Homo sapiens: one gene and its partner. The protein of the gene in region 2 interacts with the protein of the main gene of each other region in a pairwise test. Each region holds a gene or a part of one and is shown on either strand. Other genes may lie near its edges.

Region 1 (3,829 bases), on a different chromosome or scaffold from region 2:
TATATATATATATATATAGACACACACACACACACACACACACATGCATATACACACACATGCATGGAGGACCATACTAAGGCCTTTTTCAGGTCAAAAAGGGTTTTCACATTGACCTTTTTTACTTTTAAGTATTTTTCCTCAGAATGTTCCTTCAGTTAAAAATCAGGTTTAATCTGGAGCTCTTACTGATTTTTCTTTGATTCCTACTGAACACCTAGCTACTGGCCATGGTTTCTTTGAGGAAAAAAACACCATTGCTGAAGCATTTCTAAACATTTTTAATGCATGCAGAAAGAACTACATAGACTCTCCAAGCAGCTATATAAGGTGGCTCAAGTAACATTATGATTTATTTTGGTCTAAGCCCTTTCATAACGTCCTTTTAAAATACAAAGAGAATGGCTACGAAATGGTGCCAGAACCCAGAAGGCCCAGCTGGACTGACAGGAGCTCTGAGCAGTTCATAGGACAAGCAGGGACCCGCCGAACCTCTCCCGTTTCTGTGCTTTCTCTAAATGCAGCAGGTCCTCTCTTTACTGCCCATGCTTTTAAACTATGAAAAAAAATTTTTTAAAGAAATCTAGCAGTGATTAATGGAGACCTCAAATAACACTGTACATGGGCTTTGTTAGAGACAGGTAATCATTCTTAACAGCTCTTTTCCCAGAGGAGGCCTGGGTGGGCCGAGAGGCATCCAGAGTTTAGGAAGTGCTTTTATTGCAGACTGCACCTTGGCTAATACTATCCTCTATGTACTGGCTGCCTGTGTCACTCCTGCTGAGGACTGTGGAGGGGATGCGAGAGGGACGCCTCTCTGGGTTCTCCTGAGAGAAGCAGCAGATCATCTTCTTCATGGTGCCATACATGTCCTCGTCCTTGTAGGAGTAGATGATGGGGTTCACGACGGAGTTGAGCAGCGCCAGCAGCAGGAACCACCTTTTCACATGCTGCACGCCACACTGCCTGCAGTTCAGGCCGTCGAGGAGCAGAACCACCAGGCCCGGGGTCCAGCATACCACAAACGCCCCTGCAAGGAGAGAAGAGGAGGCAACAGATGCTCAGACCTTAGGGGACTTATTCAGGTTTTCTTCTCTCCCAGCCTTTAGCCAGTGGCATCAAGGGGCCCTCATGATTTGTTTTGACAACTGCAAGGCAAACTTCCACCTACCATCTGAGCATTTGAGACCTACGCTTGGTACAGGCAAATAGGTGGGAACCTCCTTGACTATCAATCACATTTCATTTCACTTTCTTTTCTGCTTACCCAGGTCTTGTGATTATGAGAGACTCACATTTACATTCTGCTTAGGAGGCAGTGCACATGCATGATCTCCGTTAGTTCTCTGAACCACACTGGGAGGCTTTGTTGCACTCATTATCCACATTGGACAGATAAGAAAACCAAGGCCCAATTCTAGGGGGAGATGAGAGGAGAACTCTCTGACTCCAGGGCTCCCATACTTCACCCTACATTCTGCTGTTACAGAAATCAGATTTTCTAAATGTGCTCTTGAAAATAAGACACAATGAGTCTACGGCATTCTTCTAGTAGTTTAACCAAATCACCTGCTCATAAATTTCATTCTTCATAAATTCATGTGGATGCTTAGTAAGCACTATATTCTTTTTGACATATTCACGGGCCATCTGCATAATCATCTGCTCTACATTTAGATTTTTTGGTCAGAAATAAATCTTTCATGATGAGATAGTTAAAAATCTACTTTTCAGACTCTGCAATTGAATATGAACCGTAGTCTCTTCTGAGTCTCTAGCCACAGCATCATACTTACCTTATCTCTAAATTTCATGATATTTTTCTCCCATTAAGACATGGGTCCACTATTTCCCTACTATTATCATAACCTCAGATAGCAATAACGACTCATCTTTATACAGCACTTACTATAAGCGAGGCACTGGTGCAAACGCTTTCCTTGATTAACTCACAGGACCACACTATGACATTGGCATTATTATTATCCCCAGGAAACCGAGGCACAAGAGAAGTTAAGTAACTTGCCTATGATCAAATAACTCTTAAGAGACACGATTTTGAACAGAGGCCGTCTTTCTCCACAGGCTGTGCCCTGGGCCACTATATGACCCGCCTCTGTAGTATGATGTGGTTGCTTTCGGCGAATGTCCTTGTCATTTCTAAATGCACTTGCTTGTCCACTCATAAATATTCATCTGAAGCTAACAATGTGCCAGGAGCTGTACTAGACAGTGAGTGAGGTGAAGGCCACGCACTCAGGGAGCTAAAATACTAACAGAGAAGACGACAAACAAGCAAGTCTATAGATGATATCACCAACTACTCTACTTGTTAGAATTAGTTCTGCATAGTATTTCTCTTGTTGCTTTATCTTACTTCTAAGAGATATAATACCAAGCAGGGAAAGACAAGGATTATAAAGAGGCAGTGTAAGGCAGGGAAGAGCCACGAACTTTGGGGTCAGACATGTATGCACAGCTCAACCTATGAGTGACCCGAATTATGGGAATTACTTCACTTTTCTCAGCCTCCATTCCCTCCTTTATACAATAAAGTTAATAAACCCAACTATGTGAGGTGGTAGTTGTGAGGATCAGAGGTCATGGAAAGTGGTACCCAACACTGTGGTGGGTTCACTGAGCAGCAGTTATCATGAGGTGCTCTGTTTCCACAAAAAATATCTATATGTTTAGTAGCTAGCAGGGGGGTTGAATTCCTTATTTCATAATTACGGTTCAGCAGTGGTTCCCTTTTTTCTCCACCTTGTATTATTATTTTCGGTCTGGCTGATATATGTGAATAAAGAACTGGACTTGGAGATAAGAGATCAGAGATTTGGGTTCTAATTCTTCACTTACTGTACAACTCTGGGAGACCCATGTCATTGCGCTGGGCTCAGCTTCCTCAGCTGTAAACTGAGGACTGACTTTAGGCTAGGTCTGAGTTTTTCTAGTGGTGGGTCAGAACTTGTTAGTGGGTGTGCAATCAATGTGACAGATTCAGACTGGTTTTTTGTTTTATTCAGACTGGTTTGAAACAAGTGAAGGAACTGGATGGGCAGCCAAGTTTGCAACTACCAACTTGAGAATTCATATTAGTAAGTTTTTAGCCATACCACCCGATAATTGTGTCTGAGAAACAAACAAGTCAAATTTGTTTGAGTTTTATGGAGAGTTAAAAGCCACAGTTTCACAGAATTCGGCAGTTTCCTACTTGGAAAAGAGTTCAGAAGCCGCTTAGCCTGATCTTTCATTCATAGGAAAAAGGCCTTCCCTTTGTACATCTCAGAACAATCCAGGCAAAGGAAATGCCCTGGTCAAGGGAGGCTCTTCAACTGCTGAACAATGGTTTCTTCTCTTAAATAACTTCATTTAGGCTGGGCGTGGTGGCTCACATCTATAATTCCAGCACTTTGGGAGGCTGAGGTGGGTGGATCACCCAGGTCAGGAGTTCGAGACCAGCCTGGCCAACATGGTGAAACCCTGTCTCTACTAAAATGCAAAAAATTAGCTGGGCATGGTGGCAGGCACCTGTAGTCCCAGCTGCTTGGAAGACTGAGGCAGGAGGATTGTTTGAACCCAGGAGGCGAAGTTGCAGTGAACCGAGATTGTGCCACTGCACTCCAGCCTGGGCAATAGAGCAAGACTCCATCTCCAAAAAAGTAAAAAGCAAAAAAATATATAAATATCTTCATTTACTTGAAAAGAAGGCTTGCATCCAAACTCTGCCTGTTGTACTCTTCCATTTGTTTTGTGTGATCCTCTGCAATAGCCCAGGAAAAGTCTGTGCTTTCTCTATGTGATGCCCTTCAGGTTTTTGAAGACAGTT
Region 2 (3,215 bases):
AAGTACCTTTAGAACTTCTAAGACTCATTTAAATGAGGAAATATCAGCAAAAAAATATGCCTTGCTATTTAGCAGTTAGGTTAAAATATGGCCAATTCTCAAGAAAAGAATGATTGAAATCTTGTAGTTTTGGTATAAGCAAGAGCAGAAACTGCTACTAATTATAGATCCTTATAATGTTCTTCCTTTCCACAATTCTTTATCTGTGCTTTGTTTACTTCTCAAACAACTGTAGATCAACTGCATCTGTTTAAGTATGGCACTAAGTCAGGCAAGATTTAAGTACTATATTCTCTGCTAAATTGGGCCTGCCATTTTATTAACTTCACTTTAAAAATCTGAAAATCATTAGTTTGATTTTGAAAAATAAATCTTACTTTAGATATGATAAATAATATGTCAAATGCCATTCACTTTTATAATATTCCTAAGAATGTTATATAGTATGTATGTTCCCCAAAGTATTTTACATAAAAAATTCCAATGTACTTTGTACTTTCAACACCAGTCTCTAATTTTTTGCTGTTTTAATTTGTATTTAAAATACTTTTCCTAAGGATTTAATCCACAATTCAAAACTTTAACATTTTACCTTTATCCTTTGTATTCTCTCAGATACTTTCAAAATTAATAATTTCCTCATAATGTAATATAACAAAAAAATCCAATAAAAATCCATATTATGTAATAATGGAGGGGGAAAAAAGAAACAAAAGAAAGCTCAATTTATGAACACTTTACAAATCCTGTACGATTCACTGACAAATGAACACACTTTAAAAAATGTCAAAGATATTAGATATAACTTTAATTTTGAATGTGATTTAGATACGATCAAACCAAAAAATTACTTATACTTTACTACCTAATCACAATTAACATAAACATAACAAATTGTATTTATAAGTCAAAGTAACAAACCACTTTTTAAAAAAAAACTCCACATTGTCAAAATTTTTCCTATGGAATATTGGCAAAGAATGTAAAGTTATATTGTGCTGCAAACAGTTAAAAGCAATGATTTTTGGATGGTTCAATAAGATGTGTATATATAACTTAAAACAAATATTTGGATTATTTCCTCTGGAAAGTTAGCTTGCAAATGAAAAGAAGAAAACCGAATCCGCATATGGTAATAGCTGTCCTCTTCAAAATTCTACTATTCCATGTAGATACTTCTTCCCTTAATTGTATATGAGTTGGATCATTTTCCCGTTCATTTTGCAACTAATATTTAGTATGGAAAAAGAAAAGAGGAGTTACTGTACAATACATTAATAAAACATTTTGATTTTAAAAAATATCATAATATCCATGTTAATTCATTTCACTTGATTTAGATGTAGGCAACTCAAGATTCCCATGGAAGATTTAAAGTAAACATATATGTCTGAAAGACAGTCTTTCATTAGAATCCCATTACTGTAAATCATTAGTTTTACATTAAAAATACATGCTTTCATAGATGATCACATTTTAAAATGGTGTTTTTAATGTCACGAGACAAAGTAACTTTAAATTTAAAGTTTCTGTTTTACTTATAAGGAATGACAATTGATATTGATTTGCTTGTGCATTAAATATCAATTAACGTCTTACAAAAAAGTGAATCATTATTATAGCAAACCTAAAACATGAAATTTAGCAAAAACGAGAAGATCAGATGCTACTGGTAGAAACTTAATTTATTTAAATAGAATTGCAGTAACAAATGTCAACAAAAACTTAAGTGGTTCTTTTAGTAATTCTCAGCAATGAAAGTACAGTACCCAGTCAGTTTCTAACTTCCCAGATGCAAATTTCTTGCTTAAGAAGCTCCCTTCTCCCCTACCTACTGTGTGTGTGTGCCCACTCTGTGTGTATCTGTGTGTGTGTGTTTCTGTGAGAGACAGAGAGACAGAGAGAGAGAGAGAGAGAGAGAGAAGGGGGAAGTGAGAGAGAGAGAAAAGACTTAAAGAGGGAGGGCTGAGAGGAGAGGGATGGCTTTTGGGGGTGGGGCAGGAGAGAAAATAAGCAGAAACCAAAGATCCTTGAAAGATAAAAAGAATCAGGCACATTTATAGAGTGATATTTACTAGAAACATCCTGTGCTGGAGTGATGACATAAATACTTTCAACATCAGCAGGAATAATGACTTCCAAATTCTACAGTGTAAATATTTAATTAAAAAGCTTGCAAAATTAATTTTAAATTTATAGCAGAAAACCAGACTCCAATGCCAATCTCATTAATACCATATTCTTGGTCTGACTTCCAAATGGCTTCATTCAGCAACAGATTCCTTTTTGACACTGATGCTCCATTTACTGAATCCTGAGACAGTCATTCCTTTTATTAATCAATTACTTAGAATGACCCTTTCTGACAGGAGCCTGTCAGTGTGTTGGCTTGAAAGAGAGTGATGTGGTGTTAAAGTCTAGCCTTGACCTCTCCCACCCTCTCTCTGTTACCTCCATACACTTATCTGTGATAACTTATGTTTCTTAAAAAAAAATCCCTTCAATTATTATTGGTAAACTCTGAAATAATATAAGCTTAACAGGCATGATAGCATATTTCCAAATCTGGAAGCCTTCATAATTCCCTAAATCAAATCTCATTATGATGATTACTACTTGTACAAGACTAATCTGAAAAAACCAACCCACTAGCTTGCTCCAAAATTTAAGACTTTCTTGCCCAAAGAACTGTATTTGCCATTATTATAAACTAATACATGTTTTCAAGGGTAGTTCTTATATAGAAATGCATAAATTCTAAATAGAGAAGGGTCACGGGAAAAAGGTCTTCTATTTAGCCAAAGAACAATGAAAATTCTCTTAACAGGTATGCATTATTAAAATAAATATGGTACCTGATTGAATTGTGTATACTTTAGAGTCAGTTTCTATAGCAAAGTTTCTTAATTTCACTCATTTAACAAAAATATGGTTTTCTAATTTCATTTTAATTCTATACACACACCCTTACCCCTCACCCCCATGTTTTTAGTTCATCTTGGAGAAACCAAATTAGTAAATAACCCTGAAGCAAATAGCTTTTAGGAAATTTCCTACACTAAACATTAAAGGCTGATGTTTTGCAAGAAGTATCTTTATACATATGCTTCTAAACTTCCCTGGGATACCCATGAAAAATGGCATGTTTAAGTAGGATCAGTTCCTTTCCTTTGATTCTTCTAGATGAGATATAATTTTTGGGTCATCAGCAAGTT

Evidence for each region.
Region 1: the proteins of ASZ1 (region 2) and LPAR3 interact in binary tests that used the Homo sapiens proteins (3 or more experiments, as listed by UniProt).

Annotation. Positions count from the first base shown.
Region 1 is NC_000001.11:84,813,142-84,816,970, forward strand, and holds part of LPAR3 (lysophosphatidic acid receptor 3), read right to left. Parts: intron 1,031-3,829; coding exon 705-1,030; 3' UTR 1-704. UniProt on the Homo sapiens protein: Receptor for lysophosphatidic acid (LPA), a mediator of diverse cellular activities. May play a role in the development of ovarian cancer. Seems to be coupled to the G(i)/G(o) and G(q) families of heteromeric G proteins.
Region 2 is NC_000007.14:117,362,522-117,365,736, forward strand, and holds the end of ASZ1 (ankyrin repeat, SAM and basic leucine zipper domain-containing protein 1), read right to left. Parts: intron 1,228-3,215; coding exon 1,075-1,227; 3' UTR 701-1,074; downstream 1-700. UniProt on the Homo sapiens protein: Plays a central role during spermatogenesis by repressing transposable elements and preventing their mobilization, which is essential for the germline integrity.